2 separate regions of the Homo sapiens genome follow, and region 2 is linked to region 1. The links come from fine-mapping of genetic effects on plasma protein levels. Region 1 holds a variant in brackets. A gene starts in the other region. All regions are shown on their reverse strands.

What was found. PIP is the chance, under the fine-mapping model, that this variant and not a neighbour inherited with it causes the effect. Protein levels are from antibody-based Olink assays in UK Biobank. Linkage for the fine-mapping came from a reference panel and not from the study's own genotypes, which makes the PIPs less certain.
Region 2: IL13 starts here. The variant in region 1 is fine-mapped to the plasma level of the IL13 protein (UK Biobank, PIP above 0.99).

What each region holds. Positions count from the first base shown.
Region 1 is chr14:105,995,554-105,998,477 of GRCh38, reverse strand. It overlaps IGH. Among named protein-coding and RNA genes, the nearest start is that of FAM30A, 79 kb to the right of the region's middle. The variant TTTA/A (reference allele first, on the strand shown) is at 1,238.
Region 2 is chr5:132,656,825-132,659,665 of GRCh38, reverse strand. IL13 (interleukin 13) reads right to left here and starts at 1,493. Exons shown (of 4, transcript NM_002188.3): 1 at 1,306-1,493; 2 at 195-248. The coding sequence starts at 1,479. RefSeq lists a silencer at 2,709-2,768.

The sequences.
Region 1 (2,924 bases):
TTTCCTATTGCTGGATGTTCTTTATTATAAAGGCATATTGGCAAATAACGACTAGAGTTTGTATTGAAAATTAACGCCAAAAAGTTTTTTAAAAAATTTTTCAAATAGAAAAGTTCTATCCTGCCTAGTTTAAAAAAATACAATGTTACTTTAATCAATGATTTAATAAAAATTTAAGTGATGTTTGTCTTATTAGTTATTCAATTTATTAATAACTGACTGATATTTAAAAAGTAAATACTGGCTGGGCGCAGTGGCTCACGCCTGTAATCTCAGCACTTTGGGAGGGTGAGGTGGGTGGATCACCTGAGGTCGGGAATTCGAGACCAGCCTGACCAACATGGAGAAACCCCCTCTCTACTAAAAATACAAAATTAGCTGGGCGTGGCGGGGAAGCTGAGGCAGGAGAATCGCTTGAACCTGGGAGGCGGAGGTTGCGGTGAGCCGAGAACACGCCATTGCACTCCAGCCTGGGCGACAAGACCAAAACTCTGTCTCAAAAAAAAAAAAAAGTAAATACCATTGTACACTTAAGTAATATATTTGGCAAGAATGGCATTTACATTCATTCAAAAATGAAACTGCAAATACGAGTTACATTCAATTAAATAATTAAAATAATATAGAAAAAAATGGGTGTGTTGTTTTGGTGTTTAATATACATTCATTTTTGCATGGACGGGTATATGTGTCATTGCTGGGCTGTTGTGTATGTGTGCGTGTGTGTGTGTGTCTGTGTGTACAACTATGAAGTTTAAAATATATTATTAAATTACGTAGTTATATTAATCCAAATTTATCATGTTAAAATATTAGGAAAAAAACACCAGTAGAGAAATTACAGAGAACATCAGCAATGCCTACAGCATTTACAAGAGTCACATTAATAACAAACAAACTAGTTCAAATGTTTAGATATGACACATGCAGTAGAAAACGTTCACATGGTATTAACACAAAAATGGTGCACAACTGAGGAAATTATAATACGTTCATGATATTGGCTACATAAATGCTTATGATAGTAATGCTTTTCATCCATCAAATGCTTATGATAATGCTTTTCATCCATCATATTATAGATGATAAAACAACTCTATAAACACTTCCATCACTAGCGTTTAATATGAGATGCCTCACATCTTTTTCTGAAATAAATAAACATCTGTCCACCACTTCGATGATCATTTCAGGATTATCCTCTGAAATAATTATCCATAATAATTTTAGTAACAAT[TTTA/A]TTATTTTCAGAAGCCTATTTTATAAGGTCTTTGAACTATTATTTTTATGATTGTTACTTTATATTTTACACACTTTTTATTTGGAATAATTATAGGTTATCAGAACAATTGTAAGGAAAATACAGTGTGTTCACATCCATCTCCAAGTTTTCACTAAAGTTAATATGTCAAAAAAAACATGGGACATGGGACTAATATATTTACATTGATAAGTTTCTGTTTATTCAGCTCTGGGATTTATTTGAATTTTGCCAATTTTTAACAGTTTCCTTTTTTCCTTTTTCTTTTCTTTTTGAGATAAGGTCTCACTTTCCTATTGCTTTTTGTTTGTTTCTTTGTTCAACCCAGGTAACCACATCAAATTCAGTCACCATGTTCCTCTCATATCTTCTGGTTAATCACAGTTTGGGTTCCTGCTGTCTTCCCATTGAATATTCTATAAATGAAACTAGTCAAATAAGTTGATTCTGGTCACTTATATATTTACCTATTTTATCACGTTTGTTTTGTCAATCACAGTAAGTGTCGAATTCGCTATCTGTTATAGATGTTAGCCTATTTTCTATCCCAGATCCATTGGTTAAATCTTTGGTGATGCCTTTTAGAAAACTGATCCCTTTACCCTATGTAATATGCCCCTTGATTCCTGAAAGTCTTATGTCTACCTTGTCTGAATTTAACATAGCTAAGCACGCTTTCTTTTCATTCATATTTTCATAGTCCATGTTTTCCTGTATTTAACTTTTCTATGTAGAGCAAATTTCTGTACAGAGCTAGTAGTTGGGTCTTGCTTTTTAAATCAACTATAATAAATTCTATTTTAAAACTGGTATTACTATTTTTCTGTTAATTTCTATTTTAATTTGGCATTTTATGATCATGTTTATTTCTCTATTAACTTATTGTTTAGCTCATCTTTTATGAATATTGTATTGGCCCTAAGATATACAATAAGAATTGTGTATAATCAGATTCTAATTCAAATAACGTAAAACCTCTTCATAGGTTGTAGAGCTATTATAACTTATTCTTCTAAACCCTCTTTCTCATCCGTTGTCTTAGTTTATTCTCAGTTTGCACTTATATGTGCTATAAAATATAATATGTGCATTTTTATCATTACATAGACATATATTAGAACAATTAAAAATATAAAAACTACATTTCAACTTCATTTTTTCATTCTTGACCACATTTTTTATTTGGATAGATTCATGTTTCGGATGTATATCATATGGCTACTCACCCTGGCGGAAAATTTGCCAAAGCACCTACTGAAGGATGAATGCACTAGCAATAAATTTTCTCAGAATCGATTTGTCTTACAGGGTATTCATTTGACTTTCGCTTTAAATGAAATTTTTAATATATATAGAATTCCAGTTTGACTTTAATTTGTAATTTATTTTCTTGTACTCATGTATTCATTATTTTCTTCCTGAAGATGGTAACACATTCCATTCTGCTGGGCCTTCATTATAGATATTTGTGTGTATCTATTCAGGGCTATATTTGCAATTTATGGATGCCACAATTATCAGAGTTGAAGTCAGCTTCTGCTGTCCACAGAGATTTCAAGTTCCTCCCATGATACTTGCTTTTGTGTCCCTGTTTGATCCTGGGTCTTTATATTTAGTTTTCCCCAGGGAGGCTGTCTGTTTCAGCTGTGGAAAGTGCACCCTA
Region 2 (2,841 bases), not on the chromosome of region 1:
CTGCAGGAAGATGGGGCTGAGATGCCTGGCGCAGGTGAGTCTGGGTGGTGGGCGGGAAGGGGCCAGATTATGGCGGGAGGGAGGAGAGCACTTGAAGCTTGCTTGGAACCCCAGCCATGGAAGGGAGGCTCAGAGAAGATAAGCCCAAGGCCTGGAGCCTCTGCCCCATCCTCCCTGCACCCAAAGGTCCTTACCATGCCAGCTGTCAGGTTGATGCTCCATACCATGCTGCCATTGCAGAGCGGAGCCTGTGGGAGCAAAGTGACAGTGAGCAGAGTGCTGGCAGGGGTTGTGGGCCTGCCCTGGCAGCCCAGGCCAGGTCTGCCCCAGCACAGGCCCCACAAGCATCCCTGGTGTGGCACAGAGGCAGGCCTGGCAGCCCCTCAGCATTCCTGAGCTTCGTTTTCTGCTTTGAACAGCAGGCATAGGGGTGAGGTCCCACTGTTTAGGGTCTTGGAGCTGAGAGAAAAAAATTGACACCACTAGTAAGGGACAAGCTGCATGCAAGGCTTGCCATAGTCAGGGCAGGAGGACAGGGGCCTGCGGGAAGGGCCAGGGTGGGGACGAGTGAAGTAGGAGTGGCCTGGGCCACTGTTGACCAAGACAAATCAGATGGGAGGCGGTGGGGATCTGGTGTATTAAATGCCCTGCCTTCTGATGGTGAGGGAACACTGCAGTTAGGAGCATGGACACTCTGGTGTTGGCCAGGCCTGGCTTGAATCCAGCCTCTGTCACTTAACCTCACTGAACCTTAGCAGAATGGGTTCATCGTACCTGCCTCTTGAGGTGGCTGGCAGTGATGAAATGACACATAAAGCACGTGCACCAGGCCTGGTGTAAGCAGTGCTCAGACATGTGAGCTGTTACTAGTGGGGCAAGGAGCGGACTCTACTAAGGAATCCTCCTGTAAGGGCGGGCCTATGATGGTGCTGGGGAGAATGGCTGCATTGTTATGGTCAAAATCCAGTTGGCAAATGCCACATGGTTCTGGGAGGGTGCTGGCCCTTCTCTGCTGTCCTCTGTTCAGGAATGGCTGAGTAGGAGCTGGCAGTGGCAGACAAGGCCAGGCCAGGAGAGCAGGTAGTCCCTGGGGAGTCTGCCAGACACCTCCATAGGTCCATCCACAGTGCTGAGCCCCCCAGCCCAGCTCCTCTCTCCCTCATGGCTGGGCCGGGCCTTGGTCCATGGAGATTTTTCCTGACCTACAGGCATCTTAGGACCAGGCCCAGCCTGCTCATGACCTCATCTTGGGAATCACCCACCCTGGAGCCCTCATAGCTAGGACCCTGGCTAGCCGACACTCACCTTCTGGTTCTGGGTGATGTTGACCAGCTCCTCAATGAGCTCCCTGAGGGCTGTAGAGGGAGGCACAGGGCCTGGGGAGGCAAAGCCGCCAAGGCAAGTGAGAGCAATGACCGTGGTCAACAAAAGCGCCATGAGGCCCAGTGCCAACAGGAGAGGATTGAGGAGCGGATGCATAGGCTGGGTGGCTTGTGGCCTTGGCGTCTTGTGGCAGCTTTTATAGGCCCAAGTGGTGACGCCTGACACCATGGTCTCTGCTTTTTCAGGCACTATCTAGAAACCACATCTTTACTCATCTTGATTTTACTTTGTGGAAAATCCAGTGTCGCATAAAGGAAAGAGTTTGATTTCTCATGGACTTATTGAGAAGGGTCCAGGGCAGAGTTTCCAAGATCTGGGTGGGTTTAATTCCAGCGGCAGGCAAGGGGCCCTGAGAGCGGCGTGGCATTTGCAATGCTGCCCTGAGTTCCAGCAGTTTTGCCTGTGACAACCCTGAGTACCTGGACAGCTGACCCAACTCTGAGCTCCTGTCCTCAGACCCTTTTGGGTCACCAGAAGTGCTGAGCAGATAGTCTTAGTGCACTGTGGCTGTGACCACAGTCTACCAGCTATGGGAATTTGGGGAGTTTTATTTTTTCGATGAACCAGTCTCTTAAATTACTTAAGTAACACTTGCTTGGATACAAAATTCAAACAGGCAATAGAAGAGTAAAGTTCACTTCTTTTGGCTTGCCTAATTCCTCCTTGGCCCCACTGTGAGAGGGATTGTCAAAGTTCAGATTTCCAGGTCTCCACTGAGAGATCCAGAAAGATTCAGAGGTCTTTCTGGGAGCTTTTTTGGTGTTTTTTTGTTTTGTTTTGTTTTGTTTTTTTGGAGATGGGGTCTCACTATGTTGCCTGCCTAGGCTGGCCTCCAACTCCCAGACTCAAGCGATCCCCCCACCTCAGCTTCCAGAGTGGCTGGAAGTAGTGTGCACGTGTCTGGCCCCTTTAATTTAAAGTGTATGGGCCATCCTTCTGGGAAACTCTTAACTGGGCCAGGCTGGCAGCCTTAGTCCAGGTCAGAGATTGTAAGTGTTCCTAGTGCCACTGGGGCTTGGGGTGATCCCCTTTGCTCACCAGTCTCTGCAGGATCAACCCCTGCCGTCTGGGGGCCTCAAATTTCCCTTCTGCAGAATGAGTGCTGTGGAGGGCGGCTCCTGGGCTTGGCCCCTGCAGCCATGTCGCCTTTTCCTGCTCTTCCCTCGTTTTCCTAGAAGTCCTCCAGAAACCCCCACAGCAGAGGCCACGGCATTTGCCTGTTGGGTGTTGATGTCAAGATTTCTCCCCTACCCACTTCCTCCCCGAACCAGCGCCTCCCCAGGCCCCCTCTCTGCCTGCTCAGGCTCCCTCCGTCCTGTCCTCGATGGGGCTCAACCTCCTCACAAGGGTGTGCTTGTGACCCTCCTCACAAGGCATGCTGGATTCCCGCTCAGAGGCATCCCAGGCTTGCCCACCCTCTCTTCCCACAGGGAACGTCATTCCCACCCTCTCTGTCCA